Linked DNA regions of Homo sapiens: region 1 is linked to region 2. Evidence: fine-mapped expression QTL. A gene starts in region 2. The other region holds a variant in brackets. All regions are shown on one strand. Distances are from middle to middle. Region 1 overlaps EFR3B (EFR3 homolog B). Region 2 holds the start of POMC (proopiomelanocortin).

Region 1 (8,000 bases), 47 kb after region 2:
TTGCACTAGGCAATAGGGGAGGCGTCACAGCTGTCAGAAATTAAATGGGGGTAAAGAAGCCCCCACTGGGGGAAGTGGGGGAAGACCGGAGAAGAAAAGATAAAGTTCTTTTTCTGGAAATCCTTAAAGATTTCCAGATGTACCACTGTGGGAAGGATGCTCTGAGCCCCATGGGCCAGGTGAGGTGTAGAACATGTGTGTCTTGATGCACCTAAGACTTCAGAAGGAAAAGGAGATGGGAGATGAAGATAGGAAAGGGAGGCAAAAAACAAAACAGAAGTGGAAGAAAGGAGAGGAAAGAGAGGGAGGGAAAAGGAAAGGCACAGTGGTTGGCTCAGGCAAGAGTCAATGATACTCAAGTCACAGGGAGTGGGCCCACATCTGGACAGAACAGGAGCCGGAGGACTCCCAGCCCAGAGACCACAGCAGCTTGTCAGTGAGATGCTATTCCAGAAACAGCCACCAGATGGCATACGAACCCCACCCCACCCCACGCCCCACCCCACGCCCCGCCCCCGCCCCCGCCCCCGCCCCCGCCCCCGTCGACCCGAGTCTAGCTCTAGTAGCCTGGGATCAACCGACCTAACTAGCCTAGTGCACAGATAGCCCAGGTGGGACAGCAACGTGGGCCTTTCTCCCCATTCCATTTCACCGAGGGGAAAAATGAGGGTGCAGGGACAGGAATGAATCCCATGCTTAGGGGATCCAGGATTAAAACCCAGTATCTGCAAGCTCTTACTGAGTGGCTGCGGGCTGGTCAAGCATGCACGTTTTCAGGGCCTGAAATAGCATCAGGAAGCAACAGAGGAAGGAAGGTCCAGATGGAAAGTCCGCAGTGATCGGAGCCATGAAAGGCATCTTTTTTTTTTTTTTTTTTTTTTTTTTTTTTTTTTTTTTTTTGAGACGGAGTCTCGCTCCGTCGCCCAGGCTGTAAGTGCAGCGGCGCGATCTCGGCTCACTGCAAGTTCTGCCTCCCGGGCTCCCGTTCTCCTGCCTCAGCCTCCCGAGTAGCTGGGACTACAGGCGCCCGCCACCACGCTCAGCTAATTTTTTTGCATTTTTTTTTAGTAGAGACGCGGTTTCATCGTGTTAGCCAGGATGGTCTCGATCTCCTGACCTCGTGATCTGCCCGCCTCAGCCTCCCAAAGTGCTGGGATTACAGGCGTGAGCCACCGCGCCCGGCCCACAAAAGGCATCTTAAAGCCTCCTTGGCCCTGCTTCCAGGGAGACAAAGGTAACCAGACTCTTGGTTCTGTGTGTTATTACCAACAGATTTACCCACCAGGGAGCCCAGCACCAACACTGTCCTCCTTCGGTAACGCACATGTTAAGGGACACTGTGGGCTGGCACAAAGTCAGACCCATGGCTTCTAGGGAGCCAGCTTTGGACTCACTGCAGAACAAGCCACAAAGCCATGTCCCTGGCCTTGTAGCTGAGTTTTACTGACCAACCCAAACCATGTGGTTCCCAAGCAGCCCTTGGAGGGTTGATTATATCTACTGTCCTGCCCCATCCCGGCCTGCTTACCTCTCTGCCTCCTCTACATGCTGTAGATTGAAAAGCAGTGATGGAACGATCTTATCCATGTGCTGTGGGTCCCAGATATTGGCCTGCAGTTCATCATTCACCGTCTTCCTCACCACCCCTTGCAGGCCTTTGATGCCTGACATTCGAATTCTGTAAGGAAAAGGGTGAAGTGGGACTCGGAAGTCCTCTAGCCCTGAGAAGTCCAGCTTCGGTGGCTAAGAGAAGAGCACAGCTTAGGAGTCAGGGATACATTTGTCCATCAGAAGGCAGAATGGAGACCAGCTGCTACTCTCATGAGACCTCCTGGTGCTGGCAGACATGAGCCCAGGAAGCCATGTCTTTTTAATCATCTTGGAGACTCCCAGGCTGCCCTTGCCCTGGTACCATCTGGGCTCCAGCCCTAGGGTGCTGGATGCTCCAGCTCCCCATCTTTAGTACTTAGCTGGGGTTGTTCCAGCTTGGGCCCAAGATGTAAGAGCTCAAAACGCTGCCAAGAACTGATGAAGCAGAATCCGAGGCTGTGAGCAACTTGCGGGGGCAGGGGGAGGCGGATCCAGAGGGAGAGGCACAGAGCTGCAGGCTCTCTGGGCACAAAGGGGTGTCGGCTTGGAGCTAGGGTTAACCAGAGGGGAAACTGAGTAACAGCACAGCAGGAGCCCCTTTTGTACACCCCCAGTCCCTGCTATGTGAACCCAGGGTCAGCACAGCTCTGTGGGAGGGAGCCCTCTTTACTAGCCATTTATTTCAGACTGAAGTTTCTTTCTTTCTTTTTTATAAAACCTTTTTTCTGGTTATAAAATAATACATACTAATCATAGAAAAGTATAGAGAAGAGAAGATTTACCACTACCACCACCACTACCACTGTTATCTTTGTTATCAAACATAACTGTTATTGGCATTTTGATGTAATTCCTTTCTTCTGTGCATAATATATAACAGAATTAAGAACCTATTGCATATTTTATTTGTATTGGCTTTTTTCACATACATTCTATGCATTTTCCTATGTCATTAACTCTTCATAAACATGTTGAATGGTTGCCTGATAGACTATCATAAGACCTTTCTAAACTAGTGACTATTAGTCATTTAAGTTGTTTCCAAATGTTTTGCTTTTTTTTTTTTTTTTTTTTTTTTTGAGGTGGAGTCTGGCTCTGTCGCCCAGGCTGGAGTGCAATGGTGCGATCTTGGCTTACTGCAACCTCTGCCTCCCGGGTTCAAGCAATTCTTCTGCCTTGGCCTCCTGAGTAGCTGGGATTACAGGCATGTGCCACTATGCCCGGCTAATTTTTGTATTTTTAGTAGAGACAGGGTTTCACCGTGTTGGTCAGGCTGGTCTTGAACTCCTGACCTCATGATCTACCCGCCTCAGCCTCCCAAAATGCTGGGATTACAGGTGTGAGCCACCGTGCCTGGCCAAACGTTTCACTTTTATAATAATGCTATGATGGGCATCATTGTATGAAATATTTTACTATGTTTCAAGTCATTGCCATGAGTGGAATCAATGAGTCAAAAGGTAAGAAATAAAAGGCAGCCAGACACAGTGGCTCACACCTGTAACCCCAGCACTTTGGGAGGCAAGGCCAGTATATAGCTTGAGCTCAGGAGTTCGAGACCAGCCTGGGCAACATGGCAAAATCTCATCTCTACAAAAAATTAAAACATTAGGCCGGGCGCGGTGACTCACGCCTGTAATCCCAGCACTTTGGGAGGCCGAGGTGGGTGGATCACCTGAGGTCAGGAGTTTGAGAACAGCCTGGTCAACATGGTGAAACCCCGTCTCTACTAACAATACAAAAATTAGCCAGGCATGGTAGCAGGCACCTGTAATCCCAGCTACTCGGGAGGTTGAGGTGAAAGAATTGCTTGAACCCAGGAGGTGGAGGTTACAGTAAGCGGAGATCATGCCACTGCACTCCTGCCTAGGCGAAAGAGTAAGACCCTGTCTCAAAAAAAAAAAAAAGAAAGAAATTAGCCAGGTATGGTGGTGCGCACCTGTAGTCACAGATACTCAGGAGGCTGGGGTGGAAGTACTGATTGAGCCTGGGAGGCAAAGGTTGCAGTGAGCTGAGATCATGTGAGATCATGGCACTGCACTCCAGCCCGGATGAAAGAGTGAAACTCTGTCTCAAAAAAGGAAATGAAAGGCTCCCAATTTGCCAAAATAACTGCCCCCACCCCCTGCCCATGCGCAAGCCGCAGGAGAATGCCACTCTCACAGTGCCTGTGGCAGTATTGAGGATCTCATTTTAAACATCTGTTCTAATTTTATGACTCCAAAAAATCCTCACATTTTGTAGCTATTTCAATTCAAATCCTTTTGTGATTATTGGAGATGAGCAGTTTTTCTCAAGGTTGAGTTGCCAGTTGCATTTTTAACTTCGTTTTTTTTTGAGACGGAGTCTCGCTCTGTCACCCAGGCACGATCTCGGCTCACAGCAACCTCCGCCTCCCGGGTTCACGCCATTCTCCTGCCTCAGCCTCCCCAGTAGCTGGGACTACAGGCGCCCGCCACCACGCCTGGCTATTTTTTTGTATTTTTAGTAGAGACAGGGTTTCACCGTGTTAGCCAGGATGGTCTCGATCTGCTGACCT[T/C]GTGATCCTCCCGCCTTGGCCTCCCAAAGTGCTGGGATTACAGGCGTGAGCCACCGTGCCTGGCCTTAACTTTGGTTTTAACTGGGGTTGCCAGGGTGCTACCCTGGGTCTTACCGAGGAACTGTGGCTGGAGGTGGCAGCAGCCTAGGAGAAACAGGATACCCTGGCCCAGAAACTTTTAGGGCCACTGGCGATGGGCAAGGATTCCCTGGAAGCACCTGGCCACGCTGTCCTGACCCTGACCACATTCAAGACCCTGAGCTGGCAGCTGTCCGGACTTGGGAATGAACGATCAGGAATACTGTCCTGCTGACTCTTCTTAGTTCCAGTTTAAAAAGGCACTCCCTAACCAAGGGACAAGTGACACACATCCCCAGCATGCTGGACTCGTTTGTCCCGTCCAAGTGGGCCTGGCTGGCAGGAAACAACGCCTGGTTGGCAGAAAAACTTCTACCCAGGGCTCCCTTATGTGTACATGTGAATTAATCTTTCTTCTTTTCCTAACTACCTTGCACTCCTTCACCTTCAGTCTCCCCAGAATCCCTTCCACAAATGCACGATTCATTCTGTGACACCCAGAGCTGACCGTGCCTTTCAAAAGAAGTTCAGAAAGATCAGGCCTGGAGGGGGAGGAAGCTTCTTACTCTTCCTATTCATTTATTTATTTATTTTTCGACACGGAGTCTCACTCCGTTGCCCAGGCTGGAGTGCAGTGGCACAATCTTAGCTCACTGCAACTTCCACCTCCCAGGTTCAAGTGATTCTTGTACCTCAGCCACCTGAGTAGCTGGGACTACAGTTGTGCGCTACCATGCCTGGCTAATTTTTTGTGTTTTCAATAGAGACGGGGTTTCACCATGTTGACCAGGCTGGTCTTGAACTCCTGACCTTAAGTAATCTGCCTGCCTCAGCCTCCCAAAGTGCTGGCCATATAGGCTTTAGCCACCACACCTGGCCCTTACTGCTCCTTTTTTTTTTTTTTTTTTTTTTTTTGAGACAGAGTCTCGCTGTGTTGCCCAGGCTGGAGTGCAGTGGCACTATCTCGGCTCACTGCAAGCTCTGCCTCCGGGTTTACACAATTCTCCTGCCTCAGCCTCCCGAGTAGCTGGGATTACAGGTGCCCGCCACCACGCCTGGCTAATTTTTTTTGTATTTTTAGTAGAGACTAAATAGGGGTTTCACCGTGTTAGCCAGGATGGTCTCCATCTCAATCTCCTGACCTTGTGATCCGCCCCGCTCGGCCTCCCAAAGTGCTGGGATTACAGGCGTGAGCCACTGCGCCCGGCCCTACTGCTCCTCTTAATGGGCACAGTGGAGATCTACCCATGACCAAGGGCCCCATGAAGTCTCTGAATCCAAGGAAAGATCAGATAATACTGATCCACTGACCCTGAGGAATCACACACACACACACACACACACACACACACACACACACACACACACACACACACTTGCATGCACAGGCCCACTGCTGGACCCAAGGGTGTTACTGGAAAGGGCAGTCAATGGCATTCAGAGGCAGCCTCTGGGTTCCTAGACCAAAATGATGCTATGTGTGTGGACAGCCCAGCACAGCTGCCACCGGGTCAGCTGAGTCTAAAAAGGCTGAGAATGAACAACAGGAGAGATCTCAGGGAAAAAGGGGTGCAGGGAGGGGACGGAAGAGAAAGGCAAGAAGAGGAGGAAGGAAGAAAATTGACACCAGAAGATCCCTCCTCCACCCTCTCTCACCCACAGGCCTTCCTGTCATGGGTGACCAGCGCCAGCCTGTGGGTGTAATGGCACTGCTGGTGGCTGGGAGCCAACCTCAGCAGCCTTCCTCCTGATGTTCAGGAAACTCCTGATCCTGCTGGAACACAGTGCTGACCACATCACACACTACAGATCATGTGTATGTGCACATGTGTCTGTGTGCATGTGTGCGTGTGTGCACGTGTGTGCAGTGGCATGAGTGGCCCATCCACTCCCCCACCACCCTGGGACAGCTTGGCAGGGCCTGCGTGGGCAGCATGTGTTACAGACATATGTGGCCATGGTCCTATACCTCCCCTAACACCTGCTTCTGGACATGCCCCCACAGCTCCAGCCCCTCTGGCTCTTCATAGCCATTTTGCAATGGTGGTGACTCAGGAAGCTAATTCTGGGAGAGGATGAGGGGCTCCTTCCTCCCATACCCCACTCTGGCCTCACCAGAGGCACTCAGGCAGGGCAGCTGCAGAGTCCACACCTGGCTTATGAGAGTCTCGGGGACTGGGGGAACCCAGACAATGCCACACAGTTGCACCGGGCCCTGCCCAGGAGTCGGTCTACTGCCTTGGAAGCATATATTCATTTTAATTTCTTTGTGATTAATTGTTTTTTTTTTTTTTGAGACAGGGTCTCACTCCGTCACCCAGGCTGGAGTGCAGGGGTGCGATCATGGCTCACTGCAGCCTCGACCTCCCAGGCTCAAGAGATCCTCCCACCTCTGCCTCCTAAGTAGCTGAGAATACAGGCACGTGCAGTCATGCCCAGCTAATTTTATTTTTTGTGGAGGTGGGGTCTCATTATGTTGCCCAGGCTGGCCTCAAACTCCTGGGTTCAAGTGATCCTCCTGCCTCAGCCTCCCAAAGTACTGAGATTACAGACATGAGCCACTGCACCTGGTCAATTTCTCTGTGATTTTATTTGAGAGATTTTGCTTCTATGTCCAAGTATGCTTCTGTGAGCTAAGTGTTTTTATAAATTGGAGTATGTGTATGTAAAAGCGTATCCCGTAAGGCAAGATGCTTGTCTGAGGGTGTTCATTCATTCTGTTATTCACTCAACAAGAATTTGTCAAGTGCCACTGCTCTCCAGGCAGTGTTAGTGCTTGGGATGCATCCGTGAGTAAAACGACGGACCCTGCCCTCACAGAGCTTACATCCCAGTGGGAAGAGACAGGTGGTGAACAAGAAACACAGAGAGTAATGTATGAAACATGTTAAAAGGGGAAAGAAACCCCGGCAGAGTGAGGGAGGAGTGGGCATGTGGGGGTGTGCAGGGCAGCTTCACTGACAAGGGGACATTTGAGCAAAGGTTTGACAGAGGCGATGCAGTGAGCCATGCAGATCCCTGGAGGAAGCATTCCCAGCACAAGCACAGACTGTGCAAAGGCCCTGAGGCAGTGTCTGTGGTGTGCTGGAGGGGAACGAGCAAGCAGGAGGGCCAAGGAGATGGAGTGGAGAATGCAGCTGGGATCAGCCAAAGTGTGAACTTTGGCTCTTTATTGGTAGGTGTAGATTTTGATGGTTAATGGTGAGTGGGTGTGTTTCTGGAGTATAAATGCATATAATTCTGAACAAAAGAGTGTATGGAGGGCTGTGTGTGTGTACACATGTGTGTTCTGTCACTGGCTCTCAAATTGGGCTCAAAGGACTGTTATCTTACATTGAGCCCCTTTGTCTGGCCCAAGCAGTTTTTCCTTTAGAAACCACATGTGGGGGCCGGGTGTAGTGGCTCCCGCCTGTAATCCTAGCACTCTGGGAGGCCGATGTGGGTGGATCACCTGAGGTCAGGAGTTTGAGATGAGCCTGGCCAACATGGTAAAACCCCATCTCTACTAAAAATACAAATATTAGCCGGGCGTGGTGGTGCACATCTGTAATCCCAGCTACTTGGGAGCCTGAGGCATGAGAATCACTTGAACCTGGGAGGCGGAGGTTGCAGTTAGCCAAGATCGCGCCACTGCACTCTAGCCTGGGCAACAGAGTGAAACTCGGTCTCAAAAAGAAAAAAAAAAAAAACAGAAACCACATGTAGGGAGCTGGGTGCTGGCCCACCTGCCCGGCAACATCAGAGCAGACACAGATACTAACAAAAGCAGACACGCAATGGCAGGTTGGAAGTT
Region 2 (15,439 bases):
GCGAGTCTCCTGCCTCAGCCTCCCAAGTAGCTGGGATTACAGGCATGCACCAACACGCCCGGCTAATTTTGTATTTTTAGTAGAGATGGGGTTTCTCCATGTTGGTCCGGCTGGTCTCAAACTCCCGACCTCAGGTGATCCACCCACCTCAGCCTCCCAAGGTGCTGGGATTACAGATGTGAGCCACCACACCCCGCCAGTATTTCATTTTTTTTTTTGTTGTTCTCAAATAATATTCCATTTTATGGATATATCACTTTTTATTTATCCATTCATCAGTAGGTAGACATTTGGGTTGCTACCACTTTTTGGCTCTTATGAATAATGCATCTGTGAGCATACAAATTTTATCAAAATGTGTGGAAAAATGTTTGAGTATATACCTAGGAAGGGAATTCCTGGGTCATATGGTAACTCTATGTTTAACATTTTGAGGAACTGCCAAACTCTTTGACAAAGTGGCATTATTTTACATTCCCATCAGCAGCAAAATACCCTTTCAAGAGTAAATAAATAAGTAGTGAGACCTTATTTATTATCTTGAAATGAAATTCATTGATAATATAACCTTCTCATGTTCATAATACATAGAAAAATAACTTCAACCTAAAGGTTGAACGATAATATAAAGGATAAATTAAAAGAACATAATTTATACATGTTTTTGTTTTTTGAGACAGAGTCTCACTCACTGTGTCACCCAGGCTGGAGTGCAGAGGCACAATCTTGGCTCACTGCAACTTCCGCCTCCCGGGTTCAAGAGATTCTCCTGCCTCAGCCTCCTGAGCAGCTGGGACTACAGGCACACACCACCACACTCTGCTAATTTTTTGTATTTTTAGTAGAGATGAGGTTTTGCCATGTTGGACAGGCTGGTCTCAAACTCCTGACCTCAAGCGATCCACCCACCTTGGCATCCCAAAGTTTTGGGATTATAGGTGTGAGCCACCATGCCCAGCGAATACATGTTTTTTGAAATGAGATGTTGAAGTCAGAGACTGGCCTTCTCAGGCGGATTAGACCTGGTCTGGAAGCATTTCCCCTAAGGGGTCTGCCAAAGGCTCCAGCCCCAGCCCCTCAATGGCACCAAGAACAGCTGCCTAGGGGGATGCTGGGAAAGGAATCACTTTCAACTGGACATAAAGGCTTTGGACAGCGTGTTAAAAACAAACCAAACTACCTTTCAAACCCATTTCAGGAGTCGTTGCACCCTTCCCATCACACACACACACACATGCACACACACATACACGTGCATGCACATGCACAGACACACACAGAGTCATGGGCTCTTTGAGCTGCTGCATAGCAGGTCACTGTGCACCAGCTCTGCCCAGCCTGGTGTCCCTCTCCTGGGGCAATGGGACTGAGGGCACAGTGGGGGCTCTCCGGGCCGCAGGTGGGCTGCCTGGATTCGCTGTCCTGGCTGCTCCATTCCTTTGAGCAGCAGGCATGGAAATGGAAGATGGGTACCTAACGGGGGCGGGGGCTGGAGAGGGAGACTGAGCTGAGTGCCTGTAAAAAGGCCACTTCAAGCCCCCTCCACGCAGCCATTGTTGGGTCTGGAGGAAGGAGGACCGCTCGGAAGCTTCTGAATGCCGCCCTGTGATGCACTCACTAATGGATGTGCATTAGTGGCGTCCTTCCTGGCCACCACGTCACTCTCCCTACCTCAACTGCTGGCTGGAGAACTCCGCATTCTTCTGGAAAAGTAGCAGTCATGCTCGAGCCCCTAACAAAGGCCTGTCCCCCACAAAAGGACCATTATGACCACCGCTGAGTCAGAATGGTGGCCGCTGGCACCTGAGCTCTGTCTGGAAAGAGCGGCAGCAGGGACGTCATCTAGCAGAGCCTGGTGTGTCTGTTATGTCCACAACATCTTCAGCAAAGACACTACTTCCAGGAAGTCTACTTGGATTGCAGAGGCGCAAGCCTTCATTGTGAAAAAAGGGCTTGGGATAAGGGAGTGGTTCTAAAAGAATACATGTGGCTCCACATGGCAATATACCCAGGTGTAATAAGCTCAGGGTAAGAGAGAACCTGCCATTGCTGATGCAGGACTGTGCACACAAACTTACAGGCTCTCTACTGGGGTGTCCCATGGAACTGGCTCTGTGTGAGGAGCGGCTGCAGAGGGCTCTTTGATCAGGGCTGGCTTTCCACAGGCCACTTGGACCCCATGGGTGGCTGCCTGCAGCAGGAGTGCTGGTAATTAGTGGCCCCATTAGTTTCCTCTGGGATTCAGAGTGAACAGAGCAGAGAACTGGCCTGCCCATGTGTGCAGACTGGAGCAGATTCTCAGAGAGAAACAGGACACGAGAAAGGCCCAAGAGACAGAAGGACAGAGCTTACCTCCTCAGCCCAGAGGACTCAGCTGTGCCCATTAGGGGCCACGTTCTGTAAGACTATTGTTTGTTTGTTTTTTAATCACAGAGCTTGACTCTAGATCTGAGCCTAGAATCATAGAATGACAGGCCTGAAACGGACCACATCCTCCCCGCCCCCATTGTTCAAATGAGGGGGCTGAGGCCTGGAGGTGGGGTGGGGGTGGGGGGAGTGACTGACCCAGGTCCCTGTGTCTGCTGGCCACAGAGCTGGGGCTAGAACCCAGGTCACCTCACCCCCTCCCACTGCTTCTTCCTCCACTCTATTTTTTTTTTTTTCTGAGGCAGGGTTTGGCTCTGTTGCCCAGGCTGAAGTGCAGTGGCATGATCATGGCTCACTGCAGCCTCCACCTCCCAGGTTCAAGTGATCCTCCCACCTCAGCCTCCTAAGGAGCTGGGACTACAGGCGTGTGCCACCATGCCCGGCTAATTTTTGTATGTGTGTGTATATACGTGTATATATATATATATATTTGTAGAAATGGGGTTCCACCATATTACCTAGGCCCTTCCTCCACTCTTGACTCTGCTTTGGACCCTGAGGGTGCTGACAACCTGCTCTAGGGAGGGGCATGGACTCTGGCCCTCCCCACTGTGCTCTGCGGCACCCAGACCATGCAGACCTTGGCCCAGGCTGCTGCACTAATGCGCGCATTAGTGGATAAAAGCAGTCTCAAGGGTCTCTTCACGAGGTCCCTTTGGCTGGAATAAAGCAAATTAAAACCCCATTCAAAGGTCAATTGAAATCTCTTTCATTCCAGTTCTCTGCACAAATTGATTCCTCTTTGCCCTTGAGGTCAAACCGAAGGCTGGTGAAGTAGCCCAGCTGCAGTGCTGCATGAGAGAAGCTCAATGAAAAGGCTGAGACTGGGGAGGGCGTGTTGCAGGGGTGAAGCGGGGCAGTGGGATCCGCCTGAATTGTAGGGCCATCTGGGGCACCAGTAACCCTCTCCTCTGCAGTGCTTCAGGCTTCAGGCCCTTTTCTGGAGGCAGCTCCCTGTCTGCCCTGCAAACCACATCAGGCTCCCCTCAGAGGGATGCTTAATTAGGGTTTCTATTGACAATTGTGGGTGCCAAGAGAAAATTTCCTTCCTTCACTCTGCCCTCTGAAGTTTTGTTGAAAATGAACTGCTAATAGACAGATTAATAGGGGAACAAGACATACAAATTAATTTCATGTGTATAGCATAGCAGAATGGTGGGAGAATGATTACCCAGTAACTCAATGAGGTCCAGATGCCTGCAGATATTTCTTGATAGGGGAAGGGAAAATGAGGGGCATAGGAGTAAATGATTTTCTGGGAAAGTGAATGCGCCCGAGGAACAATGGCCTGGGACAAAGTTCTTCTCTGTTCTTTGGGTAGGTGGTGTGAAGGTGAGAAGCAGAAAGTCATTGTGAACGCAGCCTGTCTTATTATGCAGGTAACCCCCCTAGGCTATCTCTTGGAGTTGCCCTCAGAAAAATGCAAGAAAAGTCTGTCTGGAGGCGGTGATGATCCGTCTCTTCTCAGGTGGTTAATCTTTCTTTCCTGGTTATTTGATGAGATTCCTATGAAGGGAGGCTTCAGGCAATTGTATTTCTTTTAGAAAGAAGTTTCCTTAGTCAGATATGGAAATGCCAAAGACAGTACCTTCTGGTGTTTTGGAAAAAATCAGAGAGACAGGGAGTGAGGGGAAGGTCAGGGCGAGATTTTGAAGGTTCTTCAAAGGAACTGAAGCTGCTTCTTTAGTTCCATATTTTGGGGTATAATTTTCTGAGCCCCAGTGCAATTTTAGCGGTAGTTAGGATTTCTTGAAAGTGCTCACGATTCTTGAATGCCCACATAAAGGGGAAGATACTGGGCTATTTCTCATTCAGACACAATGAAGAGGAGGCACTTCCCTGTTTCAGGTTCATGTGTCCTACAGAGGGAGTACGGAGATGTTACTGGAAAGGAATCCCAATCCGGACCCCAAAAGAGGGTCCTTGGATTTCACGCAAAAAAGAATTCTGGGCAAGTCCATAGATTAAAGTGAAAGCAAGTTTATTTATTAGGAAAGTAAAGGAATGAAAGAATGGCTACTCCATAGGCAGAGCGACCTGGAGGGCTGCTGGTTAACTTTTTTTTTTTTTTTCTGAGACAGAGTCTTACTCTGTTGCCCAGGCTGGAGTGCAGTGGCGTGATCTCAGCTCACTGCAACCTCCGTCTCCCAGGCTCAAGCAATTCTCTACCTCAGCCTCCCAAGTAGCTGGGATTACAGGCGTCTGCCACCACGCCCGGCTAATTTTTGTATTTTTAGTAGAGACAGAGTTTCACCATCTTGGACAGGCTGGTCTTGAACTCCTGACCTCGTGATCCACCTGCCACGACCTCCCAAAGTGCTGGGATTACAGGCTTGAGCCACCACGCCTGGCCTGGTTAACTATTTTTATGGTTATTTCTTGATGGTATGCTAAACAAGGGGTGGATTATTTATGTTTCCCCTTTTAGACCATATAGGGTGACTTCCTGACATTGCCATGGCATCTGTAAACTGTCATGGCGCTGGTGGGAGTGTAGCAGTGAGGACCAGAGGTCACTCTCTCAGTGGCCATCTTTGTTTTGGTGGGTTTTGGCCGGCTTCTTTACTGCAAACTGTTTTATCAGCAAGGTCTTTATAACCTGTATCTTGTGCCGACCTCCTATCTCATCCAATGACTTAGAATGCCTAACCATCTGGGAATGCAGCCCAGTAGGTCTCAGCCTCATTTTACCCAGTCCCTATTCAAGATGGAGTTGCTCTGGTTCAAACGCCTCTGACAAAGAGGGTTTTGGAGAATCATGAGTTTCTGCAAACTGAGGGTTAAGAGGGAGAGGGTCTCCCTTCCTCATTCATCCCCTCCTACCCTTGCTGTACAAATATTTTTCAAGCACCAACTCTCTACCAGGCACTGATTATGGGAGCTGTGCCCTTAGAGGCAACCGGCACCAGCTGAGCAGCCCAAGGGCCCCTCTAGACCAAACAACAGCAGGAATGAAGAGGCCCTGGCTGAGCCTAAGGAGTTCCGAGAAGGGACAATTGTTATTCCATGAGACAGGGATGGCAGCTGCCCCCAGCTTGTCCATGGAGACTATGGAGAGAGAATGAAGAAGGGCGTGCCAAGGTGGAGCTGGGGCTCCTCGTTCAGACCCTTAAGGCATGAATTGGTGCTTATTCCAGCAAAGTCCCCCACAGACATGAGGCAGCTTCATCCCTAAGTCTTCTCTTCTCCCAGGGTAATGTCCCCCATTGCCAGTCCCAATGCCTGGAGGCTGACAACGAGGCCACCCTCCTTGTACCTCCTTATCCCCTGCCCCATGTTGGGCTCTGCCACCCTGTCCTTGTTTCTGTCCTCTCAGTCATCAGCCTCCCCTGCACCTGCCCTTGTAACGCACTCACACCCTGGTGACATCTCTTTTCCAATTAAAACCTCAAAGGTGAAAAGCTGAGATGATGAGAGCAGCCCCAGCCCTACGTCTACAGCCACCTGGCACGCCCGCAGCCAGGTGCAGGTGCATCGCCCCGGCCCCAGGAGTCCTCACAAGCAGGGTCTCCCAACAAACCCATCAGCTACCCTGTCCAAAAGACCCTGTGTCTGCTCCTGTCTTACCTCCTTCCCTCCTTTCTTCCCTCCTTCCTTCTTTCATTTATTCCTTCCCTCCTTTCTTCCTTCCCTCCCTCCTTCCTTCTTGTCTTCCTTCCTTCTTTCCTTCCCTCCTCCCTTCTTTTATGTCTTCCTTCCCTCCCTTCCTTGCTTCTTCCTCCCTCTCTTTCTCCCTCCTTCCAACCTTGCCTTCTTTCCTTCCCTCCCTCCTTCTACTTCCTTCCTCCCTCTATCCCTCTCTCCCTCTCTCCCTTCCTTCCTTCCTTCCTTCCTTCCTTCCTTCCTTCCTTCCTTCCTCTTCCCTCCTCCCTTCTCACCAACACTCCCATAATATTAAAGTTAAGGGCTAGCAGTTGTACAGGACTAACTAGGGACCAGGCCCTGCTCTAAGATCTTTACATGAATTGCCTCCTTTAATCCATATGACAGATAGTGGTCGAGCTGGAGTATACAAACAAAAAGAAGCTTTTGAGCCCCTGAAATACCATAGGCAGGAAGCAAGCAAGAAAATTATTCAGGTGCAAATCTTGGCTATTATGGAAAAGGAAAGCTAACACAGAGAATAGACCAAGAGCCCAGAGGATGGAACCAAGAGCCCAGAGGATGGAACCAAGAGCTAAGGAGATTCATTCCGGGCAGTGGAACTGCCTTCTGAAGGAACTGGTCACGTGGTCACACGTGCCAGGCCAGATTTCAGAATTTCCTTTTTTCTCTTTTCTCTATTTCTTTCTTTCTTTCCTTTTTTTTTTTTTTTTGACAGAGGCTTGCTCTGTTGCCCAAGCTGGAGTGCAATGGCCTCACTGCAACCTCCGCCTCCCAGGCTTAAGCGATTCTCCTGCCTCAGCCTCCCAAATTGCTGGGATTACAGGTGCAAGCCACCATGTCTGGCTAATTTTTGTATTTTTAGTAGAGATGGGGTTTCACCATGTTGATCAGGCTGGTCTCGAACTCCTGACCTTGCGATCTGCCCGCCTTGGCCTCCCAAAGTGCTGGGATTACAGGCATGAGCCACCACGCCTGGCCCTTTCTGCCATCTTTATCCTTGATCCAACATTACCCTCCACCCACAATCACCATTCAGTTCATAGAGTTTTGTTTTGTTTTGTTTTGTTTTGAAACAGAGTCTCGCTCTTGTTGCCCAGGCTGGAGTGCAGTGGCATGATCTTGGCTCACTGTAACCTCTGACTTCCGGATTCAAGCAATTCTCCTGCCTCAGCTTCCTGAGTAGCTAGGACTACAGACATGCGCCACCATGCCTGGCTAATCTTTGTACTTTTAGTAGAGACGGGATTTCACCATGTTGGCCACAGTGGTCTGGAACTCCTGACCTCAGGTGATCCGCCTGCCTCGGCCTCCCAAAGTGCTGGGATTACAGGCGTGAGCCACTGTGCCCGGCTGAGTTGTGCTGTTTTTATGCCAGGATCAAATGGAGAAATGCACAAAAATAGTGAGGAGATTTAAAAAGCATACTTTTCTCAGTAACTAATAGAATAAGACGACAAATAGCAAGGATATAGGTAGAGAAAGGATATAGAATATTTGAGAATATACAGTCACAGAATACAGTGCAGTGAGACACTTCTTTTGGAGTGCACAGGAAGCCCTAATCAAAATGAGCCCTATGTTTATCTGTTAAGCAAGCCTCAAAAAATTTCGAAGGTCTGAAATCAAACAGAGCATATTCTCTGACTACAAGGGAATTAAGCAAAAAATTAGTTTAAAAACATGACTGGAAAATCCCCAAGGTTTAGAAGTTTTTCTTTTTTTTCTAAGTTGGTAATATGAATTGGAAGGGTTAGAGGTTAAGCAGAATATATTTGAATAACCTATAGGTCAAAGAAGACATCTCAATGAAAATAAAAAGATATTTTGAACAAATGGTAATTGAAATATGACATATCAAAAGTTGTGGGATGCATATAAAGCTGTACTTAGAAAGAAAATATAGCCATAAATACATATGTAAAAAAAGAATAAAGGAGCTGGGCACAGTGGCATGCATCTATAGTCCCAGCTACTAGAGAGACTGAAGTGGGAGGATCACTGGAGCCCAAGAGTTGAAGATGAGTCAAGGCAATATTAAAAAAAAAAAAAAAAAAAAGGAAAAAAATGGTTCAATATCAATTATCTAAGTAAAAGTATTTATTTAATGTCCAACTCATGAGTATAGGAAAAGAATAGCTAATTAAACCCAAAGATGTAGAAGGCACGATATAATAAGAGTAAAAATTTCAGAAATATAAAAAAGTATACATATAGTACAGAAAATTAACAGAACCAAAATGGATTATTAAAAAGACTAATAAAATGGATAACACCCTAAGAAAACTAATCAAGAGGCCAGGCACAGTGGCTCACGCCTGTAATCCCAGCACTTTGGGAGGCTGAGGCCGGCAGATCACCTGAGGTCAGGAGTTTGAGACCAGCCTGGCCAATATGGAGAAACCTCATCTCTACTAAAAATACAAAAAATAAGCCAGATGTGGTGGCACATCCCTGTAATCCCAGCTACTTGGGAGGCTGAGGCAGGAGAATTGCTTGAACCCGGGAGGCGGAGGTTGCAGTAAGCCGAGATCATGCCATTGCACTCCAGCCTGGGCAATAAGAGTGAAAGTCTGTCTCAAAAAGAAAAAAGAAAATGAATCAAGAAAAAAGAGAACACAAATAACCAATATCAGAGATGAAAAGGGCCAAAACCACAGATCCCAGATGCTTAAAATATATAATAAACAATTTTAAGCCAATAAATTAAAGAATTTAGATGAAATAGACAAATTCCTAGAAATACATATCTGACTCAAACTGACACATGAAGAAGTAGACAATTGAAATAGTGCCACTTAAGTAATTGAATTTGTAATGGTTTAAAACATTTTTCCTTCTTTTTTCCAGCTCCAGCTGAAAGGATTGATTCTGTAATTAAAAACTTCAATGAACAAACAATCTTAAAGATTTAGATGGCATCACTGGTGAATCATCCCAAACATTTAAGGACGAGATAACACCATTATACGCAAATTATTCTACTTAATTATAAAAAGGGGGAGGGAAGATGGATTTCCAACTTGTTTTATGAGAACAGCATAATTTTTTGATACTCAAATTAGACAAGAATTCCACAAGAAAGGAAAATTACAGGCCCATCTCATGAACATCAATGCAAATGTCTTAAATAAAATATTAGCAAATTGAGTCCAGTGCTTTCTGTATAAGGATAATACATCATAATCAAATTGGGTTTAATCTAAGAAGCCATGGTAGGTTTAACACCAAAAAATCAACAATGCAATAATTCACCACATTACTAGAATAAAGGTGAAAAATTATGTCATGTCAGACAATCAAAGGCACCTGTTCTAGGCTTTCAAAGAGGAGCTAGTGGTACAAGGATGCAAGGGCAGTGGTGACTCCTTTCTAGTGGCATTAGCTGAAGTGAGAATGGCAGCGTCCCATCCTGGGGACAGAAGTGACGTCTATGTCAGACGCCTGTGGTCTTGACATGCCCCTTGTGGCCCCTTGTGGTCTGTTTTTTTTTTCTCCACTGGATGTGATTTTGGCCATGGTTCCAGCCACACTGTGTCCCTGCCCATTTTTAGATCCTGGTCCCCCAACCTGCCCAGTGATTTTTTTTTTTTTTTAGATGGAGTCTTGCTGTGTCGCCAGGCTGGAGTGCAGTGGCGCGATCTCGGCTCACCGCAACCTCCGCCTCCCAGGTTCAAGCGATTCTCCTGCCTCAGCCACCCGAGTAGCTGGGACTACAGGTGTGCGCCACCACGCCCGGCTAATTTTTGTATTTTTAGTAGAGACGGGGTTTCGCCATCTTGGCCAGGAATGTCTCCATCTCTTGACCTCGTGATCTGCCCAACTCAGCCTCCCAGAGTGCTGGGATTACAGGCGTGAGCCACTGTGCCCCGCCTACCCAGTGATTCTAAATGCAGTTCAATGGCCTTTCAGTTCATGGAGGCCAAAGCAGGTTCTGCTGCATTAAATTAAGAAACTGGGCTGGGTGTGGTGGCTAACACCTGTAATCCCAGCACTTCAGGATACTGATGTGGATTACTTGAGCCCAGGAGCTTGAGACCAGCCTAGGCAACATAGTGAAACCCTGTCTCTACCAAAAACAAAAACAAAAACAAAACAAAAAACCAAAACCCAAAATTAGCTGGGCATGGTGGCATGCATCTGTGGTTCCAGGTACTCAGGAGGCTGAAGCATGAGGATCACTTGAGCCCAGGAGGTGGAGGCTGCAGTGAGCAGTGTTCACACTGCTGCATTCCAGCCTGGGCAACAGAGTGAGACCCTAATTCAAAAACAAACAAACAGAATGAGAGAGAGAGAGAAGAAAAGAAAGAAGGAACCCAGTTAAAGAAGTTGGGTCCATTTGGATTTTTCCTGGTTTGTTTTATCTGCTGCCACCAGCAGCCTCCTGAAGTTACAAAAATAACACAAAGTAAAATAAGGCAAAACCACCATCTGCTTGAAAGAGTTTACAAACCTGATGGTGGTCGTGGGGTGGATGGAAGATTAAAAAAATGGGGACAGAAGTGAATTAGTGCAAGCCACTTGCACTGACAAGATGGGGATGGACTTCTGTGGAAGGCAGAGGAGGTCATGCCTCATGCCCCTGGTAGGAAAAGTGGCCAAAGAGGGCTTCAGAGAACAGGGGCTGATGGATGGGCTACATCTTGATGTGAGTCAAGCTCCTGGATGGCTGGAGAGAGGAAGGATGTTCTAGTTGGGGGAACAGCTTGGACAATGGAGACCCAAGAAAGCCATGTTCTAGCAGTGTGAATGTTGTGGATGCTGAAGTGCCAGGATGCAAGGTGGAGAACTGGGAAATGGCCCTGGAAAGGGGCCAAAGCCGGGTGATGAAGCACCTTGTCTACTGTGACGGAGCTTGGATCTCTCTTGTGGTCCAAAGGGAAAGGATTGCTGAATGTAAAGCCAATGTCACCAGAAAAGCTGAATCCACAAGAGAGTCCTGGAGTCCAAAAGAGCATCTCATGGGGAATCAGGAAAGTTCTGGCATTTGGCAGATTAAGCAAGTGTCTTGATTTGAAGTCCAGTTTAGTCCCAATACTCCCTCCCACACCCACCACATCGCACAATTTGGTTTTGTTTATTTACTCCAGGTTAAGGTAGAGTCTCTTAGCTTGGTTTGAGTGCTGTACTCTTCTCTCTGGTCTGATATTTGGAACTAAAGCCAAGCCAGAACTCCAGGGCCAAGGGGGATGTTGAAAATTGTCTGAGTCCCCAGACCACCCTGCCAGCTCATGGCAAAGGGAGGGATCAGAGGCCACAGGGAAAGCACTTCAGCTGCTCTTCACAGCATCACCCTCTCCCCATTTAATGGTTTAGGTTAACAGGACTTTTTCCTTGAGGCTTGGGACACGGAAGGGAGCCTCCCCTAAACCAGGCCCTTGGAGAGCAGGCCCCAGGGGAGCAGTGCAACTCACCTTCACACCCACAAGACGGCTCCTGACTTCTGCTCCCTCCTCCCCTCCCCAAAGTGGAACAGAGAGAATATGATTCCCCACGACTTCCACATCACAGTTTCCAAACAATGGGGAAATCGGAGGCCTCCCCGTGTGCAGACGGTGATATTTACCGCCAAATGCGAACCAGGCAGATGCCAGCCCCAGCACGCACGCAGGTAACTTCACCCTCGCCTCAACGACCTCAGAGGCTGCCCGGCCTGCCCCACACGGGGGTGCTAAGCCTCCCGCCCGTTCTAAGCGGAGACCCAACGCCATCCATAATTAAGTTCTTCCTGAGGGCGAGCGGCCAGGTGCGCCTTCGGCAGGACAGTGCTAATTCCAGCCCCTTTCCAGCGCGTCTCCCCGCGCTCGTCCCCCGTCTGGAAGCCCCCCTCCCACGCCCCGCGGCCCCCCTTCCCCTGGCCCGGGGAGCTGCTCCTTGTGCTGCCGGGAAGGTCAAAGTCCCGCGCCCACCAGGAGAGCTCGGCAAGTATATAAGGACAGAGGAGCGCGGGACCAAGCGGCGGCGAAGGAGGGGAAGAAGAGCCGCGACCGAGAGAGGCCGCCGAGCGTCCCCGCCCTCAGAGAGCAGCCTCCCGAGACAGGTAAGGGCGCAGCGTGGGGGACCCGTGCTCTTTCCCCGGGATCCCCTGTCCCCGTCCTCGCGATGCAGTCGGCCGGCTCCGGCTCCGAAGGCGGACCTGGGCGCCTCTGGCTCTCCGCGGTCCCGAGTTCTCGACAAACTTTCTGCGCCGACTGCGGCATGAGAAGCCGCCAGTAGCTGAGCTGGAGGGCCCACGTCCGGCCCCTGGGCGGACGGCCGCGAAGCTGCAGGCGCTGTCTCCAGGGAGCCGGCGGCCTCCTCTCCCCCAGGGGCTCGCGGCGGTCCGGAGGCTCCGAGAGCTTGCTAGGAGGTCTTGGGACAACCCGGTCTTTTTTTTTTTTTTTGAGACGGAGTTTCGCTCTTGTTGCCCATGCTGGAGAGCAAAGGGGTGATCTCTGCTCACCGCAACCTTCGCCTCCCGGGTTCAAGCGATTCTCCTGCTTCAGCCTCCCGAGTAGCTGGGATTACAGGCATGCGCCACCACGCCCGGCTAATTTTTGTATTTTTAGTAGAGACGGAGTTTCTCCATGTTGGTCAGGCTGGTCTCAAACTCCCGACAACAGGTGATCCGCCCGCCTTGGCCCCCCAAAGTTCTGGCATTACAGGCGCGAGCCACCGCCCCCGGCCAGCCCGGTCTTTTAGTATCTCTTGCTCCCAGTTTCCAGGATAGGTGTCACATCTTGAAAGTCAAATTCCATACACGCTATCGCAAATTAATGTTGGAAACGGGGCAGCAGAGAAAAGGATAAAAGTCATAATGAACGCCCTGCCTTCCGGATTTTTTCGGATTCAGACCCCTGAATCCTTGTTTCCTTGCCCACCTTAGCGCACCCGAGGTGGCCGCGCTATGATAATTACATGATAACTGGGTCAATTACAATGCAGAATAGTTGGGTCTCTTCTCTCCAAGACCTAGCTGGGGTTAAAAACAGGTGGCCGGGGCGGGAGCTGTCCTAGATCCTGAAACGCACTGTCTAGTTTCGGATGCCCTCAACAGAACCGGGGTGGACGGTTTATGGCGCAGATCCTGGGTTGAGGGCACGGGCAGCCATTTGGAATGATCAAGGCTCAGGTAAGGGGCGTTTCCAGCGAAGGAGAGACAGTCCACTTGGCATTTGGATTCCCCAAATTCTTCATGTTTAAATGGGGCAGGGAGGGTTCTTACAGAATGGCTGGAAGGAGCCAAGGAAAATAAAAGTGTGTGTGGATTTTTTTTGTGTGTGTGTCAGTTTATAAACTCTGCACAGATTATGGCCACTTTAATGACTTACTGTTCCTTTGATGCTTTTGTTATAGGACTCGATGCATGTATGTCATGGTGTAAGGACAAAACTCGGCCCCTGTGCTCCTCTAATCTTTACAAAAGGTCATGGCCAGCGTGCAGTTTTACAGTAACAAGCAAAATGATTTGTTGAGCTCATAGAGAGCCCCTCACACCTATGAAGTTCTAATAAGTGTAGTTCTACTATAAAGTTAATCTCAGGATGAGCAAATTTCAAGTTTCTATTTTTCCAGAGCTTTCCATTTTTGGATTATAATACTTTCCCTACTTAAAAAAGCACAACATTTGATATTTCCCCAATAATTTGTTGCTTTAAAAATGACACAAAAGGTACTATTTGTTCATTGTAGAGAACTGAAAATACACATAAGCAAATACACATACACATAAGCAAAATATACAATACAAACACAAGACCATCTTTCAGGGAAGAATCTGAAGTTTTAGCAATAGCAGCCATCTAACCAGTTTAGCAACAGAATATAAGCTCTGAGAGGGTGGGAGTGAATATGTTACCACATTGTACAACACAGCACATAGGGCATAAGGAGGGGAAATGCTCTCTGGGGCTTTCCAGGAAGGCCTGAAGTCATTGCTTCTAGCAAATGGAAATCACTCCAGAGTAGTTATCTTTGACAAGAATTGAAATATAATTGAGGGAACTATCAGACCTGTAAGATTTTGTTTTTTCCTTTACTAATATGTTACTTTACATTTGCATTTGGTGACATACGTAACTACCATTTTTCTGTGACTGTAACATCTGGGCATTTTTCAGAGCTAAATGTGCTATGGTCAACTTGGAGCTTTAATCTAATTGCCTGGTCCACCAAGTTCTGGCTGTGTACTTGAATAGATCACTGGCAGGGTACAATGGGAACAGCCTGTCCCTTGGAGCCAGGAGAGGACACCAAGGTTGACCAAAGCTCGTTCAGTTGCCCCTTTAGCCGAAGCGCACCTGGGCCAGTCACTGGCTGCCAGTGCCATCTAATGGCTGCTCTGAAAATGCTCAGCCTTGCCCGGCAACCCTTCAGAAGCTAGCACCGTGCAGGCCCAGCGCCTGGGGAATAGGGCGAGGGTGGGGTAGAGAGAAGGAAGTGGCCTCCTGAAGTAGAAATCAGCGCTTCAGAGGACTTTCACTTCCAAAGCCTCCCCTATATAAAAAAGATTTGGCCCACGCCTCCCCAAATGAGAGATTTATTTTAGGCAAACTTATTTTAAAATGCCAGCGTTCATTAGGAGTGACAAGACACTTAGTCATCCACGCTTTAATGTGAATTACTTTTCTCATCTAATTACATTTCTTTCTAGCAGCTGGCTGAGAAGATCTTCTGAAATCCAAAATGATTGTAGGGTTGGCGGTGAGCTGATCTCCGGCCTCGAGGTGGCTTCAGGGGGCCCACCTGGTTAAGGGAAATTTGGCAGTGCGAGGGTAGTGCTGGAGAGAGGGGTGGGTACAGGGGGCTAGGGGCACCATGGATGCCCCCTCCTTACTGTCCCCTGGTGTCTTGACCTCAGCTTCTGCCCACAGGCACTTGCTGGATTCTCCAAAAGTATCTGCAGTGGCTGTTCCACCAGGAGGTAATTCCCTTCTGGTCTCTTTCCCCTCCACATCTGCATCCTCTTCAAATCCTGCCATTTCAGACCACATTTGAGAGCTCTAGAGAACAAGACATCTGACACGTGACGTGTCCAGAAGATGAGCCAGATTTCAAAGAACTGAGATCTGCTTTAAAAACGAAGCTCTCCAAAGTTACTGGAGTCTGGGTAATAGTGATCACCAGAGTAATTTGTGTGCAGGACATCAAATCAGGCTGCTCGAAATGCTGCCTAAATTGGCCAGTGGTTTTATTTGCTTTTCTGTCAACCTAATATTCATAGGAAATAGAGTTTCAGAGGAATGATAGGATCCTGGTGGAATAAAAAGGGAAAAGACCATCTTGAGCAGGAGTTTCAGGGTCCTCCGTTTTTCCCAAGTTACTTTCACTCCTGAGATCTTGCATGTTAGAACTACAGCTTAATGTAGTGAAATAGGAAAGTTCTCTGTTAGGAGCTTAGCCTTACCTTGTCATGGACATTAAAGTAATT

Evidence for each region. PIP is the estimated chance that this variant, and not a neighbour inherited with it, causes the effect.
Region 1: its variant is fine-mapped to the expression of POMC in whole blood (TOPMed, PIP above 0.99).

What each region holds. Positions count from the first base shown.
Region 1 is chr2:25,121,861-25,129,860 of GRCh38, reverse strand. EFR3B (EFR3 homolog B) reads right to left here. Exons shown (of 23, transcript NM_014971.2): 6 at 1,529-1,678. Among named protein-coding and RNA genes, the nearest start is that of POMC, 43 kb to the left of the region's middle. RefSeq lists an enhancer at 5,798-5,967. The variant T/C (reference allele first, on the strand shown) is at 4,130.
Region 2 is chr2:25,165,129-25,180,567 of GRCh38, reverse strand. POMC (proopiomelanocortin) reads left to right here and starts at 11,988. Exons shown (of 3, transcript NM_000939.4): 1 at 11,988-12,070. RefSeq lists enhancers at 1,009-1,508, 1,509-2,010, 882-3,637, 11,872-11,891, cis regulatory regions at 11,686-11,711, 11,712-11,885, 11,951-11,963 and a promoter at 11,302-12,114.